Homo sapiens: one gene and its partners. The protein of the gene in region 3 interacts with the protein of the main gene of each other region in a pairwise test. Each region holds a gene or a part of one and is shown on either strand. Other genes may lie near its edges. The genes, in order: AMFR, TRIM35, UBE2D4, RMND5B, RNF111, UBE4A and RFWD3.

Evidence for each region.
Region 1: the proteins of UBE2D4 (region 3) and AMFR interact in a two-hybrid assay, tested with the Homo sapiens proteins (2 studies listed by BioGRID and IntAct).
Region 2: the proteins of UBE2D4 (region 3) and TRIM35 interact in a two-hybrid assay, tested with the Homo sapiens proteins (one large-scale study listed by BioGRID and IntAct).
Region 4: the proteins of UBE2D4 (region 3) and RMND5B interact in a two-hybrid assay, tested with the Homo sapiens proteins (one large-scale study listed by BioGRID and IntAct).
Region 5: the proteins of UBE2D4 (region 3) and RNF111 interact in a two-hybrid assay, tested with the Homo sapiens proteins (2 studies listed by BioGRID and IntAct).
Region 6: the proteins of UBE2D4 (region 3) and UBE4A interact in a two-hybrid assay, tested with the Homo sapiens proteins (one large-scale study listed by BioGRID and IntAct).
Region 7: the proteins of UBE2D4 (region 3) and RFWD3 interact in a two-hybrid assay, tested with the Homo sapiens proteins (2 studies listed by BioGRID and IntAct).

What each region holds. Positions count from the first base shown.
Region 1 is NC_000016.10:56,363,749-56,366,545, forward strand, and holds part of AMFR (E3 ubiquitin-protein ligase AMFR), read right to left. Parts: intron 358-2,797; coding exon 173-357; intron 1-172. UniProt on the Homo sapiens protein: E3 ubiquitin-protein ligase that mediates the polyubiquitination of lysine and cysteine residues on target proteins, such as CD3D, CYP3A4, CFTR, INSIG1, SOAT2/ACAT2 and APOB for proteasomal degradation.
Region 2 is NC_000008.11:27,300,781-27,304,980, reverse strand, and holds part of TRIM35 (E3 ubiquitin-protein ligase TRIM35), read left to right. Parts: intron 1-137; exon of another isoform or gene 138-220; intron 221-4,200. UniProt on the Homo sapiens protein: E3 ubiquitin-protein ligase that participates in multiple biological processes including cell death, glucose metabolism, and in particular, the innate immune response.
Region 3 is NC_000007.14:43,946,708-43,950,907, forward strand, and holds part of UBE2D4 (ubiquitin-conjugating enzyme E2 D4), read left to right. Parts: intron 1-1,924; coding exon 1,925-2,030; intron 2,031-3,891; coding exon 3,892-3,985; intron 3,986-4,200. UniProt on the Homo sapiens protein: Accepts ubiquitin from the E1 complex and catalyzes its covalent attachment to other proteins. In vitro able to promote polyubiquitination using all 7 ubiquitin Lys residues, but may prefer 'Lys-11' and 'Lys-48'-linked polyubiquitination.
Region 4 is NC_000005.10:178,137,204-178,141,403, forward strand, and holds part of RMND5B (E3 ubiquitin-protein transferase RMND5B), read left to right. Parts: intron 1-904; 5' UTR 905-916; coding exon 917-1,055; intron 1,056-1,079; exon of another isoform or gene 1,080-1,193; intron 1,194-4,200. UniProt on the Homo sapiens protein: Core component of the CTLH E3 ubiquitin-protein ligase complex that selectively accepts ubiquitin from UBE2H and mediates ubiquitination and subsequent proteasomal degradation of the transcription factor HBP1.
Region 5 is NC_000015.10:59,028,861-59,033,060, forward strand, and holds part of RNF111 (E3 ubiquitin-protein ligase Arkadia), read left to right. Parts: intron 1-1,943; coding exon of another isoform or gene 1,944-1,962; coding exon 1,963-2,842; intron 2,843-4,200. UniProt on the Homo sapiens protein: E3 ubiquitin-protein ligase. Required for mesoderm patterning during embryonic development. Acts as an enhancer of the transcriptional responses of the SMAD2/SMAD3 effectors, which are activated downstream of BMP.
Region 6 is NC_000011.10:118,376,360-118,380,559, forward strand, and holds part of UBE4A (ubiquitin conjugation factor E4 A), read left to right. Parts: intron 1-214; coding exon 215-335; intron 336-3,086; coding exon 3,087-3,391; intron 3,392-4,200.
Region 7 is NC_000016.10:74,660,006-74,664,205, reverse strand, and holds part of RFWD3 (E3 ubiquitin-protein ligase RFWD3), read left to right. Parts: exon of another isoform or gene 1-2,250; intron 2,251-2,752; exon of another isoform or gene 2,753-2,754; 5' UTR 2,755-2,756; coding exon 2,757-3,274; intron 3,275-4,200. UniProt on the Homo sapiens protein: E3 ubiquitin-protein ligase required for the repair of DNA interstrand cross-links (ICL) in response to DNA damage. Plays a key role in RPA-mediated DNA damage signaling and repair.

The DNA of each region.
Region 1 (2,797 bases), on a different chromosome or scaffold from region 3:
TTACCAGATGCTCTGGTTTTTTCAAGAGAGGCTTGAAATCTGAGTTTTGGGGTGGCATGTAATGCCGTTTCACTGTTGGCATCTGTTTAAAAAGAGAAGACGGCCTGACAACGGCCTTCAGCCACTAGTTTTTGATCTGGATTATGCCAGGTGGTCTGGAGAAGCGACTCACTTGCGAGCTTGCTGGAGGAGTTCGTCCTTACGCTGCACCAGCATGCGCTGTCTCTCATCAGCAGACTTGGAGAAGCGGCTCCCACGAGCCTCGAAGTCTTCCACCTCACTGGGCTCCACTTCCACCTCGCCGAAGTCCAGCGTCTCCTCCAGGCGAGGACTGAGGTCCAGTGGCACACGCTCGGTCTGGACACGGGGCAGGAAGCAAGGAGGCAGCTGTGAGCACAGGCCTCCCTCCTAAGCAGGTTCCTCACCTACAGGGCACCCCAGACACGGCTGTTCTGGACGCAAAGAGAAGGCTGCTGCCAAGCAGGGAGGCAGAAACTAGGAACCACAAGCTACGGATAATGGAGCAGCAGCTTCCCTGAGGGCAGGCCTGCTGCCTATGGCTTGAGTAGTACTAAGAACAGGACCTGACTCACACAGAATGTTCGGCATCAGAGGGTAAGTAAATGATTACCAGCATGAAAAACGTAAGCACCTTCAAGCTGCACTCTTAGAATACGCTACCAACACGACAACCGTGAGTTTACATCCTGGGAATTTTCTGTTCACTTCTACTAATTGCTCAAACATTTAAACCAGTCTTATCCAATCTTCTGCACAAATTTTATATCCTCAATTGACTCTGAAAACAGAGGTAAAAAGGAAAACTGCTAGGCATCTATTTATTTATTTATTTACAGACAGGGTCTCACTCTGTCACCCAGGCTGGAGTGCAGTGGCACAATCTCTGCTCACCACAGCCTCAACCTCCCCAGGCTCAGGGGATCCTCCCAACTTAGCCTCCCAAGTAGCTGTGACCACAGGCTCGTGCCACCACATCTGGCTAATTTTTGTATTTTTTGTAGAGACAGGGTTTTGCTTTGTTGCCCAGGCTGGTCTCAAACTACTGGACTCAAGCAATCTACCCACCTCAGCCTCCCAAAGTGCTGGGACTACAGGCATGAGCCACTGTGCCCAGCCCTAAGGATCTTTTGAAAAGACACAGGATGGATTATATGGTTCCTTGGCTTTGGTTGAAGCTCCAAAGTCCACGACAATGCCCAGGCACCCCCAGGTCCTAGCAGGTGCCTGACCATCTGCGCTGCTCATGCTCCCAGATGCAGACCTGCGCTGGCCAGGGTCAGCCCATTGCCCGCTTCTAGGCTGTGACAGAATGGAGGTGGGTGCAGCTGAGAGGCAGGCTGTTTTACTTCAGAGTTCCTGCTGGACCTACCCTCACTTTTTCCTGCCTTCAGCTAAGCTCGAGAGGGAACTTCAAGAGAACCATTCGTATCCCCGAGAGTCAAAGGACGGGGGAACTGGTGGCTGCATACACTTGAGAAATCTACAGAAAGAAACTGGCAGGAGCCAATAAAATACAGGGCCAGGGGAGCTGTGACGGGAGCACGTTCACCTTCCACTGACTCCAGACAACACTGTGTGTGTCCTGGAGCTTGGATAGGGCTCCTGCAGGAGGGAACCAACCTAAGGTTGTTGAAAACAACTGTGCCCAAAAGGACCACTTGGAGAGGTAACAGGACCCCCATGAAGGTGGGAGTGGTCATCAATAGCCAGCCCAGGGTCAAAGGAGGAGTTTCTGGGGCCAGATGGGGACAGGGAGATAGTTGGCATAACATGTACACACACACACACAGACACACGTAGTTGGCACAACATGTAGGTACATACACACACACGCACACACACGCTGGAGTCTCACTGTCCTATTCTATCCCTCTCCTCTAAGCCTGACCCTAGAGCAGGTTAGAAAAAATGGTGAGTGAAGAGGCGAGATGTTAGAAAGAAAACAGCCGCCCACCGCAACCCCTGCTCTGTGCAGCTGCATGCCTGACTAATACCAGCCTGAGCGGGGCAGGGCAGAGATTAGAACAGAGGGAGAGTGGAGCTGACAAGCTTACTGGGCTACACTGAGGTTTCTGTTAACTAATTGTTATTCAAGGACTTTGTATTTCTTCACAAATGACCAAAAATGTTGCACAGCAAGGTTCCCTGTGAAATACATACTTTCCTCCATTATATATACATATATATATATAAAATCCAGAACTCTTCATGCTAACTCTAGAAGCAGCAGTGGAAAATCAAGACAGGGACTGAATATGCTGTACCCACAGATGCCCCCAAGCCCACAGCATCCATATCTCAGCTGCGCCAGCTATTCAAAAACTGGAGGCCGGGCGCGGTGGCTCACGCCTGTAATCCCAGCACTTTGGGAGGCAGAGGCGGGCGGATCATGAGGTCAGGAGATCGAGACCATCCTGGCTAACACAGCGAAACCCCGCCTCTACTAAAAATACAAAAAATTAGCCAGGCGTGGTGGTGGGCGCCTGTAGTCCCAGCTACTCGGGAGGCTGAGGCAGGAGAATGGCGTGAACCCGGGAGGCGGAGCTTGCAGTGAGCCGAGATCGCACCACTGCACTCCAGCCTGGGTGACAGAGCGAGACTCCGTCTCAAAAAAAAAAAAAAAAAAAAAAAACTGGAAATGTAGACATGGACCCCTTAGAAGCCATGCACCATTTCACAAATGATGCATAATCCAATTACATAGGTGGATATGAAAATCTTAACCCAGCAACAGATTTGAAGAAGGCCTAGTAGTGTTTACTGTTTCCTCTTTGTA
Region 2 (4,200 bases), on a different chromosome or scaffold from region 3:
GAACCTGGTCGGCCAGGTGCCAGAACTCTTGGCTGCTACATCAATCTGCCTGAAAACAAATCGTGAAATTTGGGAGACTGTAGAGACTTCTCTGCTTTCATTTTTAAGGTGAGGAGCCTGATAGCCGAAGAGAGAAGGAACTTTTTACCAACTCACCAGTGGATAGTGACAAAGACAAGGCTCCAAACCAGCTCTCCTAACCTTCAGTCCAGGAGGCAAGGTATATAGCAGAAAAAACACAGGCATTCCATGTACTCATTGACTGGGCAGGTGGTTAACTGAACATCTACTTTGTGCAGGGACTTGGACATGCAGGGGACAAAACAAAGTCTCTCACCTTGCAGAGCAAGCATTCCTTCTGCAGAAGTGTACCGAGCACCACTATGCAAGGTAGAGAGGACCTGGAGGTTAAGACCTGCCCTCAGGAAAGAGAAGCTATTACCCTGGATAGTGAGTGCTGAGACAGAGGTGGCCAGGGTGCTGTGATGCCCTGGAATGGAACCTGAGCTGGCAAGATCGGGGGGCTTCCTGGAGGAAATGAGGGGTACTAGAGCCGAGTTTTCAAGGTGATGTTGGGTTAGTTGGGGGAAGCAGGTGGGAACCAGGCAGAGCAACAGTGTGTATCAAGTCTCACAAGACAGAAAACCTGGCTCAGGCCAGACAGAGCTGGTTTCACATGCAACTCTAGCACTTTGGTAAGTCCTTGCAAAGAGGCTATGAAGACCTTGTGCAATGAAATTCATTCTTTCCCTTGCCCCTACCTTCCTGCTTCCAGCTATACCACAGAGCACCTGTCCTGTTAATGAAAATTGTGGGTAACGTGATTTTGTAAAGTGCTTAAGATCTTCAATATGCAATTGAAATTTGTTGCTTAAGGAATCAACTTGTCATTTTTGGGAAATCATGTAGTCTATATGATCACATTCTGGATCCTTTAGTATGAATAAAAACCTATTTTGTGTGTGTTTATAACTAATCTTTAACGTAGGCTGGACGCGGTGGCTCATGCCTGTAATCCCAGCATTTTGGGATGCCGAGGCGGGCGGATCACCTGAGATCAGGAGTTCAAGACCAGCCTGGCCAACATGGTGAAACCCTGTCTCTACTAAAAATACAAAAATTAGTTGGGCATGGCGGCAGGCACTTGTAATCCTAGCTACTTGGGAGGCTGAGGCAAGAGAATTGCTTGAATCTGGGAGACAGAGGTTGCAGTGAGCCGAGATTGCGCCACTGCACTCTAGCCTGGACAAGAAGAATGAGACTCTATCTCAAAAAAGTAAAAAATATAAAATAAATAAATAAAAAATCTTAATGTTATAATGTGATGCTAACATCGAAGCTTGTTTGCTCTCCTGAGCTTGGGCTGGGGGATGCTCCAGATCTGTTGTGGGCCCCTGCTACTGCCCATCTCTGCTCATTCATGTGCTCCTTGGGCTACAGGCAGGCCCCTTGAGTGGTAGTTCTATTTGTAATCTAAGCATATTTAGGGTTAAAATTAATACCAAAAGCAAACAAAATAATATTGTTTAGATGCATTCAAATTCACACTTCTTACATGTCATATTTCCTAGGTGAACCACTAGATGCACAGAAGGGGAAAATGGAATAAAAAATGTGTAGTAAATTTTAAAAAAGGAAAGGAAGAAAAAGAAAAATAGAATAAGCAAGACAAATAGCTCAGAACAAGGTGGCAGATTTAAATGCAAACATATCGGTAATTATGTGTTAAATACTCCAGTTAAATGAAAATGTTGATCTGACTGGATAAGAAAACGAAACCTAATTCTGTGTTGCTTAATATAATTATCTCAGTGAGAAAACATTTGATAAAATTTACCATCTTTTTGTGTTTAAAAAAACAGGAAACTAGAAATGGAAGGAATTTCATTAGTTTGATTAAGTATATCTAGCAAAAAAACTTACAGCAAATATCACATTTAATGGCAAAACATTGAAAGCTTTCTTATTGAGATCAAGAAAAAGACAGGAATGCGCATTATGACCAACTCTATTCAGTTTTGTGTGGGATAGCCTTGTCAATGAAGTAAGCCAATAATTATAAATAAAAGATGTAAGGTTTGGAAAGAAGGGAAGCAAAACTGGCATGTGTAGATAATATGGTTGCATATTTTTGCACTGAGATTTCTATGTGTAGAAAATAAAGATTCTACAGTTAAATCATAAGTATTAATAAGTTTAGGTGAATGCTGAATCCAAAATCAAGATGCAAAACCAGTTGTATTTCTATGTATCACTAGCAAATAGAAAATAAAATATAGGCAGGGAGTTTTACACCTGTAATCCCAGCACTTTGGGAGGCTGAGGCAGGAGGATCGTTTGAGCCAAGGAGTTTCAGACCAGCTTGCACAACATAGTCCAGCCTGTCTCTACAAAAAGTTAAAACAAATTAGCCAGGTGTGGTGGTGCATGCTTGTAGTCCCAGCTACTTGGGAGGCTGAGGTGGTGGGAGGATCACTTGAGCACAGGAGGCTGCAGTGAGCTATGATTGTGCTACTACTGCACTGCAGCCTGGGTGACAGAGGGGGACCCTGTTTTGGGTTTTTTTAATTTAAAAATATGTTTACAATAATATAAAAAATAAGATAACTAGGAAGAAATTAATAAAAGATACGCAAAACTCTGATAGGGAAAAATATACTTCGTTGAGAGCTATCAAAGAACATTAAGTAACTGGTGTGATATATTATGTTCGTGGATTAGTAAAGTCAGTATTTAAGCCTTTCAGTTTTCCCCAAATTGATCTATAGAGACAATATTGTACTAATCTAAATCTCAACATGATTATTTTTATGCAACTTCACAGATTCTAAAATTTATATGACCCTCAAAGGGCCAAAAATTGCCAAGACATTCTTGAAGAGAAACCTATCAGAAATCCTCTCTTTTTTACAGCTATAGAAATTATGGCTGTGTGATGTTGGCACAAGGATAAACAGATGGGCCAGAGAAACAGATGGAGAGAACCAAAAAACAGATCTGTGTCTGATTTAAGACAGAGGTGGCTCTGCAGACCAGTGGGCAGTAATGGTCTTTTTAAATAATGGTGCTGAGACAATGAGCTACCTGGTCACACCATGTGCAAAAATAAACTCCAGGTATCCACATCAGACCTAAATGTGAAAGGAAAGCTATAAAGCTTTGAGAAAATACTACAGAGCTATACAATAATAATGCAAAGCTATAAAGCTTTGAGGAAATAATACGATTGTTTTTGTGATCTCAGTGTAGGGAGGTGTTTCTTAAAACTAGTATACTAATCCTAAAGGAAAAGACTAATAAATTTGGCCATATTTCAATTAAGAAAGATAAATGATGAAGTAGAAAATATTCATTACACCTCTAACTAATCAAGGACATACATTGTGTATATATAATAAATTCCCACAAACCAGTTAGGAAAATGGCAGGCAACGCAATGGAAAAATGGACAATACTTTACTGAGTACTTAAAAATAAACATTGAAGTGGTCAATAAACATTTTCTATTAACATTGCTCTTGCTGTAAAAATTGGTACCACTGCTTTGGAAAACAATTTGGCATTACGCAGTAAAGTGAAGACACATATGGTGGCCCAGCAGTTTTATCCCCAGGAATATATTATGAAGAAACGAGTTCCCATGTGTCCCCAGGAGACATGTACAAGAAGGTTACCTCCTCTGGGTCTAACTTGATCCTCTGTATAATGGGACTCACAGTGCTTAACCTTATAGGGAGAATTCGAATTAAATAATTGAATTAAATAGAATGTTTGTAAAGTGCATAATTTAGTGCCTTGTGTCTAGTACATGCTTAATAGTAACTGCTTGCTAGCAATAGTAATATAATTGTTGGTTAGTCTCATCAGCTGACATCTCAGAGAAGGGCCATTTTAGGATTGGTCTTTTCTGAAGGAAACCAGAACTCTCCAAGTGATTGAAAAGTTTGAGAAGATCAAGGGACTATCCCCTTCCCATCCTTATTGTCCCATAAATTCCTAAGGGCCAGGGTTGAAGGGCAGGGGCTGAACTGTGTTGTTTTGGGGCCTGCACACCTTTGGGTAATGCGTATGGACAGCTGCTTCACTCCTGTCACTTAACTAATTTGGCAAATCACTAAATTTTCCTTTTGAACTGTATTACATGATTTTGTATCAAAAATCTCATTCTATAAAATAAAACATTGGAATGACATTTCAGTG
Region 3 (4,200 bases):
GACATTTAGGTTTTACATCTTTTGTTACAGTGGTTATCCTTACATATTTGAAGTGCACAAGGGTATTTTAGGGCTAAATTCTGAGAAGGGGGGGTCTTAGAAAGGGTGAAGTAGAAAGGTGGGGAGGGTTTGTGGCCTGGCAGAGGGTCCACGGCCTGAGCTTCTCTTTTTCTTTTTTTTTTATTATTATACTTTAAGTTCTAGGGTACATGTGCACAACGTGCAGGTTTGTTACATAGGTATACATGTGCCATGTTGGTTTGCTGCACCCATCAACTCATCATTTACATTACGTATTTCTCCTAATGCTATCCCTGCCTCAGCCCCCACCCCCCGACAGGCCCTGGTATGTGATGTTCCCCGCCCTGTGTCCCTGTGTTCTCATTGTTCAATTCCCATCTATGAGTGAGAACATGCAGTGTTTGGTTTTCTTTTTTTTTTTTTGAGACAGAGTTTCGCTCTTGTTGCCCAGGATGGAGTGCAATGGCGTGATCTCGGCTCACCGCAACATCCACCTCCCAGGTTCAAGCAATTCTCCTGCCTCAGCCTCCCGAGTAGCTGGGATTACAGGCCTGCACCACCATGCCCGGCTAATTTTGTATTTTTAATAGAGATGGGGTTTCTCCATGTTGAGGCTGGTCTCGAACTGCTGACCTCAGGTGATCCGCCTGTCTCAGCCTCCCAAAGTGCTGGGATTACAGGTGTGAGCCACCATGCCTGGCCCAGTGTTTGGTTTTCTGTCCTTGTGATAGTTTGCTGAGAATGATGGTTTCCAGTTTCATCCATGTCTCTGCAAAGGATGTGAACTTATCCTTTTTTATGGCTGCATAGTATTCCATGGTGTATATATGCCACATTTTCTTAATCCAATGTATCATTGATGGACATTTGGGTTGGTTCCAAGTCTTTGCTATTGTGAATAGTGCCGCAATAAACATACATGTGCATGTGTCTTTATAGTAGCATGATTTATAATCCTTTGGGTATGTACCCAGTAATGGGATCACTACTGAATCAAATGGCATTTCTAGTACTAGAGGAATACCTTGAGGAATCACCACACTGTCTTCCACAATGGTTGAACTAATTTACACTCCCACCACCAGTGTAAAAGCATTCCTATTTCTCCACATCCTCTCCAGCATCTGTTGTTTCCTGATTTTTAATGATCGCCATTCTAACTGCTGTGAGATAGTATCTCATTGTGGTTTTGATTTGCATTTCTCTGATGACCAGTGATGATGAGCATTTTTTATGTGTCTGTTGGCTGCATAAATGTCTTCTTTTGAGAAGTGTCTGTTCATATCCTTTGCCCACTTTTTGATAGGGTTGTTTGATTTTTTCTTACAAATATGTTTAAGTTCTTTGTAGATTCTGGATATTAGCCCTTTGTCAGATGGGTAGATTGCAAAATTTTTCTCCCATTCTGTCGGTTGCCTGTTCACTCTGATGATAGTTTCTTTTGCTGTGCAGAAGCTCTTTAGTTTAGTTAGATCCCATTTGTCTATTTTGGCTTTCGTTGCCATTGCTTTTGGTGTTTTAGTCATGAAGTCTTTGGGCCTGAGCTTTTCTGCTGATACATCAACAAAACATCACTGCTTTTTGCATAAAACTTCCTGGGCTTTTGAGTCCTTTCCACCACCCTTGTTATTCCTCAGAGCATACTGCTTTCAGGGAGATGGTATCAATCCCCCTATGTTCAGAATGAGAATCCAGCAGGGAATGGGTCAGGGAACTTCTGGGTGATCACTCACTCCCATATCCCATTAGAGTTTGGGAGTGGGGGTCTGGCTTAGCCTGCACTGTGGGGCCAGGTATGCAGCACACTCCAGGTACTGCCCAGCAGCAGCTGCTTCTGCTTTACTTGGTTCATTTCCCACACGTCCCTGTGGTTTGTCTGATTGGGGATCTCTTGTCTTTGCAGGTTGCTTTCACAACCAAAATTTATCACCCTAATATCAACAGCAATGGCAGCATCTGCCTTGATATCCTGCGGTCTCAGTGGTCTCCAGCGTTGACTGTGTCAAAAGGTAGAGATGCTGATGGCATGCTCTGTGTGCTCTTTTACACATGTTTTTACCCCAGCACTGACTGAGTGGAAATGGAAGCTCAGAGAAAGAAGTCACCTTTCCCAGGTCACATAGCCCTGTCCACTGCTGTGCCCTTAAGTGGATATCCTTACACGCCTACGAGGCAGCACCAGCAGAACTTTGTGCCCCGCTCCCTGGCGCTTCTCAGCAGTCAATTGCCCTGGTGTGCTCAAGACTGTCACATGGGTGCAAGAAGAAAATACTGATTCTACTTATATTTTTTTATCCAAAAATAAGAAAGGCAAATATTACATTACCTTCTCTGTTCCCTCATTTATTCATCTAATAAGCACAAAACGGACTGTGAGTCAGCCCTGAAGGAAGATACAGGGCATGCCTCCGGGGGCCTCGAAGTTGGTGGAGAAATCCTCCCTTCCCAAAATAAATGATGTTGAGCACATGTCTTTGGTTGAAGTTGAAGAAACCAGTCTAAACTGAGCTTAGAAATGCAGATATTCCTTCTGAATTAAGATGGGCTGTGCATGGGCTATGTATGCACGAGAGACCTGAATGTAGATGGTGCAGTATCCTGGCAGGTGGAGCGTGGGAGGATGGTGAAAAATCAACCCAAGAGAAACAGAGCCTGGCCTAAATTTTAAATTTTTCTGTAGAGGAGACAGGGTCTCACTTTGTTGCCCAGGCCATTCTCAAACTCCTGGCCTCAAGCAGTCCTCCCATTGTGGCCTCCCAAAGCACTGGGATTATAGGCGTGAGCCACTGTGCCCAGCCAAGTATCTTAAGAAAGGCAAACCTGCCCCTGTCATTTGTAGCTTTATGTGTGGGGACCTGTGGTCAGAACTTTGATGGACTCACTGAATCCAGTTTGTTTGGAATCATATGGTGAGTCGAAAGCAAAGCCAGGAATGAAAGTGTGCATTTCTCTCTGGGACCCCAAGAATCCAGGCACCACAATTCCTTCTGCTCCTCACCACAGCCCTAGTGGGTGATTCCCTTCCCCTAGGGTTGCTGAGAGCCACATTGAGTGCACATCTTAGAGACGGTGCTGGCACAGAGGAGGATGCATCTGCTTTGCAGTTAGAAGGACCTGGTTCAGAATTTCTTTATTTTTTTTTTGAGATCGAGTTTTGCTCTTGTTGCCCAGGGTGGAGTGCAATGGCGCGATCTCGGCTCACTGCAACCTCCACCTCCCAGGTTCAAGAGATTCTCCTGCCTCAGCCTCCTGAGTAGCTGGGATTACAAGCATGCACCACTATGCCTGGCTAATTTTGTATTTTTTTAGTAGAGACAGGGTTTCTCCATGTTGGTCAGGCTGGTCTTGAACTCCCGACCTCAGGTGATCTGCCTGCCTCGGCCTCCCAAAGTGCTGGGATTACAGGCAAGAGCCACCGCACCTGGTCCAGAATCTCATTTTAATCCATTTATTGGGTGTTCCAAGTCTGTGACCTTGGACAAGTTACTTGAATGCTCTGAATTCTTGTTTCCTTAACAGTAAACAGGACTCCTAGGACTAAATGCCAGAGGTTCATGATGTAGGGTACAGACAAGGATGGGAGGGCAGTTGGAGACTAAGATGGGGTGCTTCAGTGGAGAAGGGGAATGAGAACCAGGATGCACCCAGGAGGGAAGTATCCTAGCACAGCATGCCTCAGGCCACACAGTGAGGACCACCTCGGCTGATACATGGGACGGGGCAAGTGGTGCATCAAGCAATTTAGATTGGGCTGTTGAAGGGAAGACAACTGCTTGGTCAAAATACAGAGTGCAAGTTCAGGGAAGTTTACCCAGGGGTGACCCAGCAGCTTCGTGGCTACAGCTGACCAACCTTTTCTTTTCTTCCCAGTTCTCTTGTCCATCTGCTCGCTGCTCTGCGACCCCAACCCCGATGACCCCCTGGTGCCAGAGATAGCACACACCTACAAGGCCGACAGAGAGAAGTACGTGTCCTCTTTGGGTTGCCTTTGCACCATGGCTGCCCCAGGCAGCTCCATGCAGTACCTGTGCTCTGAGCTGGTGCTTCTAGGCTGCAGGTTCCCACAGACATCTTCCTGCCCATGCTGAGCCATGTGCACAGAGGGTGTGCCCTGGGCTTGGACTCCTGGCTCTCTCACTAACATGTCCTTTGAGTCTAAGGAGGGAAAAGGAGATAAAA
Region 4 (4,200 bases), on a different chromosome or scaffold from region 3:
TCGGGTGTGCGGCGGGTGAGGGTGAGGCAGGAGTGCTGGGCAAGTCCGTCAGGCCAGCATGGTTGGCAGTTATTCCCCAAGCTGTGTTTCCAAATATCAGCCACTCAAGGACGGCCTTTATGGTTTATGTTACTATAGTACGTAGAAAAGCAGTTCCTCTAACTGTAAGAATGTGGCCATAATAACTCTATGAAAATACACGGGCCGGGCATGGTGGCTTATGCCTATAATCCCAGCACTTTGAGAGGCCAAGGTGGAAAGATCGTTTGAGCCCAGGAGTTTGAGACCAGCCAGGGCAACACAGAGAGACCCGTCTCTACGAAAAAAAATTTTAAATTAGACAGGTGTAGAAGCACACTCCTGTGGTCCCAGCTAGTCAGGAGGCTAAAGTGGGAGAATCCCTTGGGCCTGGGGGGATCAAGGTTGCCATGAGCTGAGTTTGTGCCACTGCACTCTAGCCAGGGCAACAGAACAAGAGCCTGTCTCAAAAAAAGAAAATACATACGTGTAATATGACATTATGCAGTATATGGATTTCTAGTTAGATAGTATTGCCAGCTAAGGGCTCTGTGAGGCCTGCTCTCTATTCTGATTTAAAAGGGAGATGAACAAAAATTAAGGCATGAAAAGAGTTGAAAATGGAATAATAATTTTCTCACCATGATTAAGAAAAACCTCGTCCTCACACCAGCCTGCATCCTCCACTGGGCACCCCAGTGGAGTGAGGAGATGGGATGTTATATGCTTACCAAAACATAGGTACATATATACATATATGTACAAAACATATAACATTGATACATGATGTGGGAATGGTGAGAGGGATCTGAAGAGGTGGTCTGGGCACCCTGCCTGCCATGCCACCGTGGCCCAGATGGGGCCTGACCCAGCTGACCCTCCCCAGGCTGAGGCCACCATGGAGCAGTGTGCGTGCGTGGAGAGAGAGCTGGACAAGGTCCTGCAGAAGTTCCTGACCTACGGGCAGCACTGTGAGCGGAGCCTGGAGGAGCTGCTGCACTACGTGGGCCAGCTGCGGGCTGAGCTGGCCAGCGCAGGTGGGTGGCCACCCTTGCAAGTGCCCTGCGACAGCCTCCCTGAGGACATGGGAGACCCGAAGCTACTGAGTGACAGGGTTCCGGAAGGACGATGATGAGGATGTTGGTACCTGCATCTGTAGGCCTCCTTGAAACCGGGTAATGACAGTCTCTGAGCTACTTCAAAAAGCCCAACAAATTATTAATTTACCTGAGATGATTCCCATTTACATTTTGTTTTCAACTTACTTTTCTATTTTTAACTTTTTTTCATTTTATAATTGTGTGTGTGTGTGTGTGTGTGTGTGTGTAGAAACAGTGTCTTTGTTGCCTAGGCTGGTCTTTAACTCCTAGGGGCTCAAGTGATCCTCCTGCCTCAGCCTCCCAAAGTGCTGGAATTATATGCGTGAGCCACCATGCCTGGCCTATTTTTAGCTTTTAAGATTTTAAAGATAATTTCAAATTTACAGACCAATTCCAAGAATAGTATAAAGAACTGATATATACCCTTTACTTGGATTCACCAACTGCTCATATGTTGCCATATTTGCCGTGATCATTACTTTTTAACCATTTGAAAATAAGTTGTAGATAACATAGCCCCAAGCCTTCAGTGTGTATGTCCTAAAATCAAGGGCATTCTCTTACATAAAAACAGCGTAGTTATTAAAACCCAGAAATTGCCAGGCACAGTGGCTCACGCCTGTAATCCCAGCACTTCGGGAGCCCGAGGCCGACAGATCACCTGAGATCAGGAGTTTAAAACCAGCCTGGCCAACATGGCAAAACCCTGTCTCTACTAAAAATACAAAAATTAGCTGGGCATGGTGGTGGGCTGCAGTGAGCCGAGGTCACGCCACTGCACTCCAACCTGGGCAACAGAGCAAGACTCGTCTCAAAAAACAAAATAAATAAATCAATCCAAGAAATGAAACATTGATATAATATTACCTAATAACTATAGTTCACATTTCTTTTTTTTTTTTTGAGATGGAGTCTTACTGTTGCTCAGGCTGGAGTGCAGTGGCGTGATCTTGGCTCAACTGCAACCTCCACCTCCCGGGTTCAAGCAATTCTCGTGCCTCAGCTTCCCGAGTAGCTGGAATTAAAGGCGCATGCCACCACCTGCAGCTAATTTTTGTATTTTTTAGTACAGGTGGGGTTTTGACATGTTGGCTAGGCTGGTCTCGAACTCCTGACCTCAAGTGATCTGCCTGCCTCGGTCTCCCAAAGTGCTAGGATTATAGGTGTGAGCCACCATACCCAGCCAGTGTAGTCAACATTTCAATTTTGCCATTGTCCCAGGAATTTTTTTTTTTTTTTGATATAGAGTTTTGCTCTCATTGCCCAGGCTGGAGTGCAATGGCGCAATCTCGGTTCACTGCAACCTCCGCCTCCCAGGTTCAAGAGATTCTCCTGCTTCAGCCTCGCAAGTTGCTGGGTTTACAGGCCCGTACCACCATGCCTGGCTAATTTTTTTTTTTTTTTTTTTGGATTTTTAGTAGAGACAGGGTTTTGCCATGTTGGCCAGGCTGGTCTCGAACTCCCGATCTCAGGTGATCCACCTGCCTCAGCCTCCCAAAGTGCTGGGATTACAGGTGTGAGCCACCATGCCCGGCTGTTCAGGAATTTTCATAAAGCATTTTAATTTCCAGTCCAAGAACCAATCCAAGATCACACACTGCATTTAGTTTCTCCTGTCTAATCTTTACTTTTTTTAATCTGAGACATTTCTTCTGTCTTCCTTTATCTTCCATGACATTGGTATTTTTGAAGCATTAAGGCCAATTATTTTGCAGAACGTCTCTCAATTTGGAGTTGTCTGATGTTTTCTCATTACTTAGGTTTTGCATTTTTGGCAGTACTTCAGAAGTGATTTGTTTCTCAGTGCATCACACTGGAAGACACAAGATGTTGCTTTATTGCATTATTGCTGTTGTTCACTTTTATTTTGGAGACAAGTTCTCACTTTGTTGCCCAGGCTGCAGTGCAGTGGCACGATCTTGGCTCACTGCAGGCTTGACCTCCTGGGCTCAAGTGATCCTACCACCTCAGCCTCAGAAGTAGCTGGGACCACAGCAGTACACTACCAGGCCCTGCTAATTTTTTTTTTTTTTTATTGTAGAGACAGGGTCTCCCTATGCTGTCCAAGACGGTGTCGAACTCCTGGGTTCAAGTGATCCTCCCGTGTCAGCCTCCCAAAGTGCTGGGATTATGATCCGCTGCACCTGGCCTGATCTTCACTTTGATCACTTAGTTAAGATGGTCGCTGCTAAGGTTTTCCACTGTAAACTTCCTAATTTTTCTTTGTAATCACTAAGTAGTTTGTGGGCTGTAATCCTAGCACTTTGGGAGGCTGAGGCGGGCGGATCACTCGAGCCCAGGAGGTTGAGACCAGGCTGGTCAACATGGCAAAACCACATCTCTACTAAAAATACAAAAATTAGCCGGGCATGGTGGCACATGCCTGTAGTCCCAGCTACTTGGGAGGCTGAGGCATGAGAATCGCTTGAACCCAGGAGGTGGAGGTTGCAGCGAGCCAAGATCGCGCCACTGCATTCCAGCATGGGTGACAAAGCGAGACTGTCTCAAAAAAAAAAAAAAAGTAGTTTGTGGGGAGATACTTTGATACCATATAAATGTCCTGCTCTTTACCAAATTTCAGCCTACTAGTTTTAGTATCCATTAATGATTGTTGTGTGAATTATTACTAAGCTGTCTGCAACATGGTGATTTTTCCTGCTTTGTCATTCTTTATACATTTATTAGTTGACATTCAACTGAAAAGAAGCTTTCCCTTCTCCTTTCATTATTATCACTTCACACTCATATTCTTATTTTATTCAATAGGTTATAATCCATTGCAGTTATTTAATGTTCAAATTGTCTTAGGTCTGACCAGAGGGAGTCCCTGGTTCCTATGTCTTTTTTAAAAATTGAGCTATAATTCACTTACCATTAAACTCACTCTTTTAAAGTACTCTGTCCAGGTGCAGTGGCTCATGCCTGTAATCCCAGCACTTTGGGAGGCTGAGGCAGGTGGATCACCTAAGGTCAGGAGTTCGAGACCAGCCTGGCCAACATGGTGAAACCCTGTCTGTACTAAAAAATACAAAAATTAGCTGGGCGTGGTGTCATGTACCTGTAATCCCAGCTACTCAAGAGG
Region 5 (4,200 bases), on a different chromosome or scaffold from region 3:
CCTCTGCCTCCCAGGTTCAAGCGATTCTCATGCTTCAGCCTCCCAAGTAGCTGGGATTACAGTCAGTGCGCCACTATCCTGGCTAATTTTTGTATTTTTAGTAGAGATGGGGTTTCACCATGTTGGCCAGGCTGATCTCGAACTCCTGGCCTCCAGTGATCCGCCCGCCTTGGCCTCCCAAAGTGGTGGGATTACAGACATGAGCCACCGCGCCCAGCTTGTATTTAATTTTTGAGGATCTGCTAGACCGCTTCCCAAAGTAGCTTGTATCATTTTACATTTCCATCAGCAATATATGAGGGTTCCAATGTTTTTTTTTTATGCATCCTCTCTAACACTTGTTATTACCTGTGTTCTTTATTACAGCCATCCTGTTTGGCCCCATTCAACTCTTAGATCACATGTACCTGTGTTTTATCATTGTGACTTCTGTGTTCTTGCCTTTAATTAAAGTGATCCTTGTCTGACTGGCTGCCTTCTGTAATTTGCTCATTGCCATGCTCATGTTCACTCATCTTTGTATTCCTGGTTTATCACTGATCCTGCTGAACTACAGATAGCGCGTGATGGCTGATCTTGGATACAGCACTGCCTGTGCTTGTGAATAAGAATAAAAGAAGATAGTGGTTTTGATAGCTTTCTGTAGGAATAGGTCATTCTATGCCTTAATTATTGTCATTTGTTCTGATAGTAAAGTTATATACTATAGTAACATGGGAGACCTGTAAGATTATATATTTCTGTAACCCATTTGTAGAGAGGGAAAATACTTGCTTACTAAACAGCTGTTGTACTCGCTTTTTAGGAACTGGTTTCAAAATGTATTTTATGGGCAAAACAAATCTGTGGTGTCAGAAGTTACAATAGTGGTTAACAGTTTGGTGGGCTGTAGTAATGGGAAGAAGATTTCTAGGGTGCTGGTTATGTTGTTTATCTGTGTGCCAGTTACATAGAGGTGTTCATTTTTTTAGTGTTCATTCATCTATAAACTTAGAATATGTGTGTATGCTATACTTAATAAAAACTTGTTAAAAATATGTTAACATTGTTTATTCATGTTTTGCACTAGTAAAGCTCTTCATTTGTCACATTTACTGCCTTTCTGATTAATATATTTCATTTTGAGTCATGATATTTACTATTACATTATTTTCATATGTACATTGCATTGATGTAAATGCTTTAAATTCAGATCTCTTTTTGGCAGCTCGTAATTTAAGATGTTGAATGATTTAGATAGATTAGCTGTACAAAGTTTGATTTTATGTTCTGCTGTATTGTTTATTTAACTGAATGATCTTCAGCAGCCCACAGTCTTGGCTCTAATCTTTTTGTATTTAAAACTGAAATGCAGTAGTTGTGTCTACTATCAGGAGAATTCAGATTCTCATTAGAGAATTAATAGAGTAGTATGAAGGAAAAAAAATAGAAAAGAGAAGCTTATATTCATTAGCTCATTATTAATAATATCAATCTAATGTAGTAACCATCTAGATGTACAGAAACATTTAATAATAACCACTTAAAAATGTCATACCAGGAGTAAAACATGTTGACTAATTAGTCTTTTGAATTCGAATCCTTTTATTTATATTTCACTGAAATAGGTTTTGAAGTAATTGTTTGATTTGACCAAATATGTTTTGTTGCTGAAGGTAGTGAGATATGCAATAAGATCAGTTTTTGGTTAATAGAAGTTTTTAAGTAGGCTTATGCTCTATATCTACTGTATTTCTAAAAATTGGATGCATGAGTAGAGTGACCAGAGAAAAACGTTTTATAAGAATAGTAAAATAATTCATAACAGACATTTTGTGTACTGATGAGGAAAAGACAGTTCTGCCTTTATAAGGGATCTTCTTGGTGGAATTTGAGAACTCTTCAATTAAATAGTATAATAAAACACATTAAAAATCTTTTAAATATCTAATTTTGTCTTCTAGGCTTTCCTTAAAGTTTCCCATGTCTCAATGGACTCCTGAATATAACGAGCTCTACACCTTAAAAGTGGATATGAAGAGTGAGATTCCTTCTGATGCACCAAAGACACAGGAGAGTCTGAAAGGGATCCTTTTGCATCCAGAGCCCATTGGGGCAGCCAAAAGTTTTCCTGCAGGAGTTGAGATGATTAATAGTAAAGTGGGGAATGAATTCTCTCACCTGTGTGATGATTCTCAAAAGCAAGAGAAGGAAATGAATGGTAACCAGCAAGAACAAGAAAAAAGTCTCGTTGTGAGGAAAAAACGCAAAAGCCAGCAGGCTGGCCCTTCGTATGTGCAGAATTGTGTTAAAGAAAACCAGGGAATATTAGGACTGAGGCAACACCTAGGGACACCAAGTGATGAAGATAATGATTCCTCTTTTAGTGATTGTCTTTCTTCTCCTTCATCTAGTCTGCATTTTGGAGATTCTGATACTGTGACTTCAGATGAGGATAAAGAAGTCTCTGTAAGACATTCCCAGACCATTTTGAATGCTAAAAGTAGAAGCCATAGTGCACGGTCTCATAAGTGGCCTCGGACTGAGACAGAATCTGTATCGGGATTGTTAATGAAAAGACCCTGTTTACATGGCAGTTCGTTACGGAGACTTCCATGCAGAAAGAGATTTGTAAAAAATAATTCCTCACAGAGGACACAGAAACAAAAAGAGAGGATATTAATGCAGAGGAAGAAACGAGAAGTGTTAGCTCGAAGAAAATATGCCTTGCTACCTAGTTCTAGTAGTTCCAGTGAGAATGACCTCAGCAGTGAATCCTCTTCTAGCTCATCAACTGAAGGAGAAGAAGATTTGTTTGTTTCTGCCAGTGAAAACCACCAAAACAATCCAGCTGTTCCCTCAGGTAAAAATGTTTAAGCTGAGTAAAACATGGAACCTATTGCATTGCATTTGTGCTTAATTTTTTGTTTGTGTCTTACTGATTTTATTTAAAGGGACTATCAGGTTCTATTAACTTTTATTTTTAAGTCATATAAATTACCAATTGCAGTATTAAACCATGACTCTAATGCTAAGATAAAAATTTAAAAAATTTCTAGTGACAAAAATAAGTCAGAGTTTTTTGGGAGAATAACCCTTCATTACTTTTTTTTTTCTGAAACAGAGTCTCACTTTGTCACCCAGGCTGGAGTGCAGTGGCGCAATCTCGGCTCACTGCAACCTCCGCCTCCTGGGTTCAAGCAATTCTCCTGCGTCAGCCTCCCAAGTAGCCAGGATTACAGGTGCCCACCACCATGCCCAGCTAATTTTTGTATTTTTAGTGGAGACGGGGTTTCACTATGTTGAACAGGCTAGTCTTGAGCTCCTGATCTCAAATTATCTGCCCACCTCAGCCTCCCAAAGTGATGGGATTACAGGCATGAGCCACTGTACCTGGCCTCATTTATTACATTTTATACATATTAGATTATATTTTATGTATGTTCTTCATTTATGGTACACATTTTTTTCCTTGTGTTTCTTTAATATGCTTGACTGTTATGAATACTTTTTCAGCTACCTGTATGATGGATTCAGCCATAGTAAGAACAGTTCTAGTCACTAAAAAAGACTGGTTAATTTTTTTTCCTTTGTTTTTTTGAGGCAGCATCTGGCTTTGTTGCTCAGGCTGGAGTATAGTGATGCAGTCTTGGTTCACTGCAACCTTCACCTCCTGGGCTGAAGCCGTCCTCCCACGTCAGCGCCTCAAGTAGCTGGGACTACAGGCCCACACCACCACACCTGGCTTATTTTTGTATTTTTTGTAGAGATGGGTTTTGCCAAGTTGCCCAGGTTGGTCTTGAACTCCTTAGCTCAGGCGATCCACCTGCCTTGGGCTCTCAATATTTTTTCTTTAAGTACTATATTCTTGTTGTTTGCTGTTATCATGTTCTTTATAGCTGAAAAGTAATTTCAAGTAACTTTTATTCTAATACTAGGACCCAGAGACTTTTAGTCTCGACAGTGCATATGATACATCAATTAAAATTGGGTAGGGACTATTTCCTATCAGTGCTCTTGAGCCTGTGTGCTCTTGCTCATGCGTGCTGACTCTCTCTCTCTCTCTCACACACACAGTAAATGTGATATTTAAGTAGAATAAGTTTATTTGCAGACAGTCCTGAAATGTATGTTCCATGTATACAAACCATCCTAAGATAATGCATCACTTTTACAGTTGTAATTTAAAGGGAGTTGTTGAAGTGAGCATTGAAGAGCTGT
Region 6 (4,200 bases), on a different chromosome or scaffold from region 3:
GTATTCCTTTTAATTTTTGGTGATTTCATGAAAAAGATTTAACTGTATTTCTGTAGACGGTGAGAAACCAAAAGATATATTCAGACAAAGAACTAATATGACAAGATATGTTTTTAAGAAGATATCACTGCTAACAGTATGGAAATTGAATGAGTGTAAGAGGAGACTGGAGACCAAGACATTTACCCTCTTTTTTTTTTTTAACTTCTTTGAGGTTTGGACAAAGAAACCTGTTTGATCCCAGCTGTGCAGGAGCCGAAGTTTCCACAGAACTACAACCTTGTAACAGAGAACCTTGCTCTGACAGAGTACACCTTGTACTTGGGATTTCACAGGTAACTCCTCTGATGTCATTAGGAAAAAACAGTTTAGTTGTGTTGATAACTAGAAGGTAGAAATTGAGTCTTTGGCCAGGCACAGTAGCTCACATCTTTAATCTCAGGATTTTGGGAGGCCAAGGCAGAAGGATTGCTTGAGGCCAGAAGTTTAAGACCACCAACCTGGGCAAGAAAGTGAGACCCCCATCTCTACCAAAAAAAAAAAATTAGCCAGGCATGGTGGCATATGCTTGTGGTCTTAGCTGCTTCAGAGGCTGAGGCAGGAGGATTGCTCTAGCCGAAGAGTTGGAGGCCACAGTGAGCTATGATTGTGCAACTGTACTCCATCCTGGGTGACAGAGTGATAACCTGTTTCTTAAAAAAAAAAGAGAGGAAGAGTCTTACAGATATAATCTGAGCTTATTCTAAAGGTTCACATTAGAATCTAATAGAAAAGGGGCATTGTATGAATTTACTTGTGTTTCATGAATCAGCTTTGTCCAGATTCCTTAAATTTGTTTTTAACTTTTATCGTTGTCGTTGTTGTTGAAATGGATTTTCGCTCTTGTCACCTTGGCTGGAGTACAGTGGCACATTCTCTGCTCACTGCAACCTCCGCCTCCTGGGTTCAAGCAATTCTTCTGCCTCATCCTCCCAAGTAGCTGGGATTACAGGCATGCACCACCATGCCCAGCTGATTTTGTATTTTTTTAGTAGAGATGGGGTTTCGCTGTGTTGGCCAGGCTGGTCTCGAACTCCTGACCTCAGGTGATCCACCACCTTGGCCTCCCAAAGTGCTGGGATTACAGGCATGAGCCACTGTGCCTGGCCTGTTTTTTAACTTTTGACCTGTTAAACTTTAAAAATTAAATCACTGTCTTCCTATTGTGATCTGGGAAAGTGGAATTGTTTTCATTTTATATTGCACTTTCTGCTCTTAAATTTTCATTACTGGCCGGGTGTGGTGGCTCATGCCTGTAATCCTTTGCACTTTGGGAGGCCGAGGCAGGCAGATCACTTGAGCCCAGGAGTTTGAGACCAGCCTGGGCAACATGGCAAAACCCCGTCTCTACAAAATATACAAAAATTAGCTGGGCATGGTGGCGTGTGCCTGTAGTGTCAGCTACTCACGAGGCTGAGGTGGGAGGATCTCTTGAGCCTGGGATGTTGAGACTGCAGTGAGCCGAGATTGCGCCACTGCACTCCAGCCTGGGCAACATAGTGAAACCCTGTCTCAAAAAAAAAAAAAAAAATTTCATTACTACTCCTGGTGATAAAAGATGAAGTTCAGCCGGGCGCAGTGGCTCATGCCTATAATCCCAGCACTTTGGGAGGCTGAGGCAGGCAGATCACAAGGTCAGGAGATCAAGACCGTCCTAGCTAACATGGTGAAACCCCGTCTCTACTAAAAATACAAAAAATTAGCCCAGCTTGGTGGTACGCGCCTGTAGTCCCAGCTACTCGGGAGGTTGAAGAAGGAGAATCGCTTGAACCTGGGAGGCGGAGGTTGCAGTGAGCCGAGATGGTGTCACTGCACTCCAGCCTAGGCGACAGGGCGAGAATCTGTCTCAAAAAAAAAAATTAATTAAAAAAAAGAAAAAGACCAAGTTCTACTCTACAGATAGAGACAAAAGTGGCAAATATTAAGGAAATGTTTATAAGGGAGCTAATGAGATCAATAGGACCACAAAAGACATTAGATAAAGAAGATTCTAGAAATGTTAAGATTTTAGAACTAGAATGTATGACTTCCAAAAACAGTTCTGGTTCTGGCTATTCATTATTCTGTAATTTGTTTTCCTCTGATTTAGCTGATTATGACAGGTATAAGTAGAGGAAGAAAACAGCAACTCAGTCATAGAAAGGGACACTAAGAATAGCAATTTTTAATGCCTTCTCAAGATACCTGAATTGATGCAGAGCATTTTTCAAAACTACTCAGTCAACACATTGCCGGAAGAAGGAAATTATGTCTTTAGAGAGAAATCTCCATCATAGACATTTTAAATAAGACAGTAGATAAAAGTTCAGCATGTGCTTAAGCTGCTCAGCTGCCTAGATTCAAACAAAAAATGAATATCATCTAGTTTCCCAATATTAGCTAGCTCAAGACATTATCTACAGGGCCAAAGGAAATGATTTTGGACTATTATCCATAACTTTGAATTATGTGTCTTCCTTTCAGTAGAGAATATTAGGCTGACCTTTTCTGAAGAATAATTTAATTTAATATTGAACAACAGAGAGCTGGAAGCTGCTCTTAGATTGCATCTCAGGTGGCTACTAGTTTATATGTGGTCATTACTAATCTAGAGTCCCTTTTCACCAGCTTAGTTTTCTACTAACCAAAGAAAGACTATCCATATAACCCCATCAAAGTATGATCATTGCATCAAAGTATGATCATTGCCCTTGTGTGATGTAAAACTATCCTGCTGGCCTTCTTGTACTTTGCCTAATAATTATTTTATGTAATAACAACCCATTCTACACCCTACTCAACCAAGCTGCCTTTCTTTGGATAGTGCATTTCAACTGAAGGCTGCTATTTGCAATTAGCTTCAATTATGTTGAATACTTGGCAGCATTTTCCCATTGCTGTGCACCCTGCCTGTGTCCTGTCAAAAACTTTTGTGAGTGCCTTCTGTGTCATTGCAACTGCAACTCCCTACTATCCTTAAAGAGAAGGCTAGATAAATAATTGAGGATTTGTTTTTTTGTGACTTTCTGTTTTCCCTGACCCAGTCTCTTCTGCTTTCTTGGGGGCAGGTTGCATGATCAGATGGTAAAAATCAACCAAAATCTGCATCGGCTGCAGGTTGCCTGGCGGGATGCTCAGCAAAGTTCTAGCCCTGCTGCTGACAATCTTCGTGAGCAGTTTGAACGACTGATGACCATCTATCTTTCTACCAAGACTGCCATGACAGAGCCACAAATGCTACAAAACTGCCTAAACTTGCAGGTGTCCATGGCTGTTCTACTGGTTCAACTGGCCATAGGCAATGAGGGCTCACAGCCAATAGAGCTAACCTTTCCTTTGCCAGATGGCTACAGCTCTTTGGCTTATGTGCCAGGTAAGCAGGCTCTCCCTTGGGAATGTCCTGTTTATAGCCTTCTGAGTTTAAGTGGGTCACTTTGGAAGTTTAATCCTCAAAATACCCTTTCTTCGTTATCATTCAGTTGTTTTTGGAGAAACAACTCAAACTTAGATAATATCTACTGGTCAAAGTATTAGGGGACTAACAGTTTGTTCCCTCAACCTTGTGTCCCCCTGCTATGCATATCAGAAAATCATCTTCAAAGGATTAAGTGTAATCAGAGTTTTCAGAGCTGTTAGTTTCTATCATTAATATTTGTTCAACTTACACATTCATCTAACTTTCCCTGTCCTTTTTGTAGAAAAAAAATTAGCTCCTGCTGGTTAACTCAGAAGGGAAAGAGTGTGTGTGTGTGTGTGCGTGTGTGTGTGTGTGTGTGTGTGTGTGTGTGTGTGTGTGTGTCAGTGAGTCATTGAGGGGTGGGCAGGTGTTGTCAATCTAATCAGGTTATGTGTTCTTAACCATTGTATTGGCCATATCATGCTGAGTAACAGATTACCCCAAAACATAGCAGCTTAAAACTACAGACTGGGTATGATGGTGCACGCCTGTAATCCCAGCACTTTGGGAGGCCGAAACAGGATGATTACTTGAGCCCAGGAGTTCAAGATTGGCCTGGGCAACATAGAGAGACCCTATCTCTACAAAAAATAAAAAATTAGCCAGGCATGGTGGTGCACACTTGTAGTTCCAGCTACTCAGGAGGCTGAAGTGAGAGAATCGCTTGAGCCCAGGAAGTTGAGGCCACAGTGAGCCATAATTGCACTACTGTACTCCAGCCTGGG
Region 7 (4,200 bases), on a different chromosome or scaffold from region 3:
GCTGAGGCAGAAGGGTTGCTTGAGCCGAGGAGTTGAAGACCAGCCTAGGCAACGTGGGAAACCCCATCTATACAAAAAATGTTTAAAACTTGAAGTATCTCACATTGTTCAGTTTGCAGACTTTCTTTCCCACTTATTTTCAGTACTGTGCCACTCTCCATCCTGAGTGTAAGCCTGTGTGGTTCAAACCTCCAGTTTTCTCGTGCATAGGGGGAGAAGGGCTTTGTTCTGTGTTTTGTTTTAGCTGGCTGGTGTTTGAGTAGGAGTCAAGCTAACTGCTTTACTGGCTTTTAACCAGCCCTTCTCTTTTAGCGCCATCTTTCAATATTGCCTTTTGTGGTACCTGGTTTTTACAGTCCCTTTAGTGGGAATCAGCTTGCTTCTCAATAACACACCTCACCCCAACCACTGTGCCCTTTGCAGGCTTTGAGTTTTATCTTTTGGCTCTGCTAAGCAGTCATCAATCATCAGTTTCTCCTTTATGGCCTTAAAAAACTGGTTTGCATATCATACCCTGTTTGCATTTGTGTCGTCCTGGTTAATTTATCCTTTCTTAAAAAAATGTCTCAGGTTGTGGGGGTCATGTTCGTGGGTTTTAGGAATGACTGGAGTGGAGAGAGAAAGATACATATATGTACTTCGTCCACTATGTTTATTAGAATTCCTTCCATTTATTCAGCCTGCACCAGTCTGGCCTCTGACCCCACCACTTCAGGGAAACTGCTTTTTTAGGTCACCTGTCATCCTCATGTTGCCAAATCTAGCGGCCGTTCTTCCCCCCAGTAGCACTTGACACTCAATTGTTCCTTCCTTGAAACATTGTTTTTCCAAGACACCACATTCCCATGTTTCCTCCTACTTTATAATCTTCCTTAACTGGCTTCTTTTACTCTGTTGTACTTTTAACAGTAGTGTCTCTGACTTTAGTCTTCAGCCCTCTTCTGTCATTCTGTTCCTCAGGTGGTTTAATCTGCTTTGATGATTTTAAGAAACATGAGTATTGGCCGGGCGCGGTGGCTCATGCCTATAATCCGAGCACTTTGGGAGGCTGAGGCTGGCAGATCACCAGGTCAGGGGATCGAGACCATCCTGGCTAACACAGTGAAACCCCGGCTGTACTAAAAATACAAAAAATTAGCCAGGCGTGGTGGCAGGCACCTGTAATCCCAGCTACTCGGGAGGCTGAGGCAGGAGAATGGCGTGAACCCGGGAGGCGGAGCTTGCAGTGAGCCGAGATCGCGCCACTGCACTCCAGCCTGGGCAACAGAGCGAGACTCCATCTCAAAAAAAAAAAAAAAGAAGCATGACCATTCTGAAGATTCTTAAAGCTGTCTGTTTGTTTTCATCTCCACTGCTACCACTCTTGCCTAGGTCTCTCTGACCTCTGGTCTGGACTCCCACAATAGCCTCTACACTGGTCACCTAGCTTATGCTCTTGCACCCCTACAGTGCATTCCTAACATAGAAGAAACTCCTTACCAAGGCCCATAGGCCCTTTAATAATGGTGTCCTGTTCATCAGTGAAACCCATGCTCATCAGGGACCTATGCACTGATTTCCTTCTGAGACTCTTCTTGGCTCTTTGCATAGCCAGCTGCTTTTAATCCTTCATGCCTCAGCCCAATTTTCACTCTTTAAAAGAGTACTTCCCTCACAATTGTGTCTTAGTTGGTCCTCTTTGTCTCCTCAACCCCAAACATCATAATCTATAATTTTTTTCATGTATTTGTTTATTGACATCTTACTTGCTAGAATCTAAACTCTGATACATGGGGTCTTATCTGTTTTTGCCTCTAGGGTGTCTTGTCTGCATAACAGGTGCTTAATAACTATTAGTTGAACCCCCATTTCCTCATAAGTCAGATGAAAATAAAAGCACGTGCCTTACTTCACAAAGTAATTAAGGGGATAAGTTATACTGATGTACTTTAAAAACTAGGTGGTAGGGAGGCACAGTGGCTCAGTCCTGTTGTCCTGATGCATGAGGAGGTAAGGCCAGGCATTCAAGACCAGTTTGGGCAACATAGGAAGCCTTCATCTATATAACAAAAAAAAATTTTTTTTTTTAGTTTAAAAACTAGGTGGTAGTTTTCAAACTGATACAATGGAATTAAAGATAGGAAACATGAAAAGAACATAGGTGCTTAATAAATATTTGTTGAATACGCTAACATGATGGAATTAGAGATGGAAAACAAAAATAATGAAAGGGATAGGATAAAGTTTGCTCAGCCTTTTTGGAAACATTAGGTAAGTTTCCATTTTGAGTTAGTAACAGTTAATTTTGCAAGTGTAAAAAATGTCCTTTCTCTATTTATCCCTTGTAACTGTTGATGCTGTGAAAGATTAATATTGCCTGCTAAAATTAGATACTGCATTATATGCATTTGATTTTGGTGAATGTCCATATTCAGCTTGAGAGAACTGCAAAGTGTCTGAGAGATTACTTTTAGACCCAGTAGTTTAATCTCCTTGGTTTATAGATCTTTCTATTTTGGAAGATACTACTATGATCACAGGACTTCATGTTTTCTAAGGGCAAACCGGAAAACTGGTTATAAATGCTTGTTATAGAGAGGAAAGTCCATTACCAAACACTTCTGACTTAAGTAGTTAAAATCTTCTCTTGAAGCTTCTCAGTCTTGCTAAGAATGATATTAAACATAAAATCAGAAAGATTAAATATGATTCTGTCACCTACATAGCATGTTTTATCTATTTTATTAATACTTTTTACAAATACTGTTTCTCTAGTGATGGCTCATGAAGCAATGGAATATGATGTTCAGGTGCAGTTAAATCATGCCGAACAACAGCCAGCTCCTGCTGGCATGGCCAGCAGCCAAGGGGGACCAGCCCTCCTCCAGCCTGTTCCTGCTGATGTGGTCAGCAGCCAGGGGGTACCATCCATCCTCCAGCCAGCTCCTGCTGAGGTGATCAGCAGCCAAGCGACACCACCCCTGCTCCAGCCTGCTCCGCAACTGTCTGTTGACCTGACAGAAGTGGAGGTCTTGGGAGAAGACACTGTGGAGAACATCAATCCAAGAACTTCAGAACAACATAGGCAGGGATCTGATGGTAATCACACCATCCCAGCATCTTCGTTGCATTCAATGACCAACTTCATCAGCGGACTGCAGAGACTTCATGGCATGCTGGAATTCCTGAGACCTTCATCTTCAAACCACAGTGTAGGGCCAATGAGAACAAGAAGGAGGGTATCTGCTTCACGGAGGGCAAGAGCCGGAGGGTCTCAGAGGACAGACAGTGCCAGGTAAATAAATATATGGATAAGTCTGTGATCATTGCTGTACTAGAAATTATGAAACTGAGGCTCTGCCATTCAAGGACTGACAGTGTGACTTTTGGCAAGTCAGGTAACTTCTGACCCCCAGTTCCTCATAGGTGGAAATAAAAGTGCTTGCCTTACTTCACAAAGTAATGAAGGGATAAGTTAAACTGTTGTGCCTTGAAAACTAGGTGGTAGTTTGTTGGCAATCTCTGTAGAGATTGGCTGTTGTTCAGATTGTGTCTTGTACACCAAAAATTCTTTCTTCACTTGCAAGTCTCTACTCACCCAAATTCATTATTCACTGGCATTCCACCTGGGGGCACAATTAATTAATTTTCTTTCATAGTCTTGGTTTGAACTTGCCTCTTGAAGGGCTTAGCTGTCAAGTCTTGACAGGGTTATTATGAAGAATAACAATTGCCTATACCCTGTCCGTTTTTTGGTTTTTTGTTTTTGTTTTTGAGACAGCGTCTCACTCTGTCGTCCAGGCTGGATTCCCGTGGCACAATCTTTGCTCACTGCAACCTCCATCTCCCAGATTCAAGCGATTCTCCTGCCTCAGCTTCCCCAGTACCTGGCATTACAGGCGCGTGCCACCACACCTAACTAATTAAACCTGTCTGTTTTTGGTTTTGTTTTGTTTTGAGATGGAGTCTCACTCTGTCGCCCAGGCTGGAGCGCAGTGGTGCGATCTCCGCTCAGAGAGGGCTTTGTTCAGGGTCTCATAACTATAGAATAGAGGAGTTAGCACTGATATTGGAGCCTGGATCTGCCCTGTTTTCTACATAGGCAGATGGAGGAAGCTTCGACGAAATCCCTTTGTTTTCTCTTTCTTCTTGTTTTTATTATTGTTATTTTTGAGACAGGGTCTCACTGTGCTCCCCAGGCTGGAGTGCAGTGGTGCAATC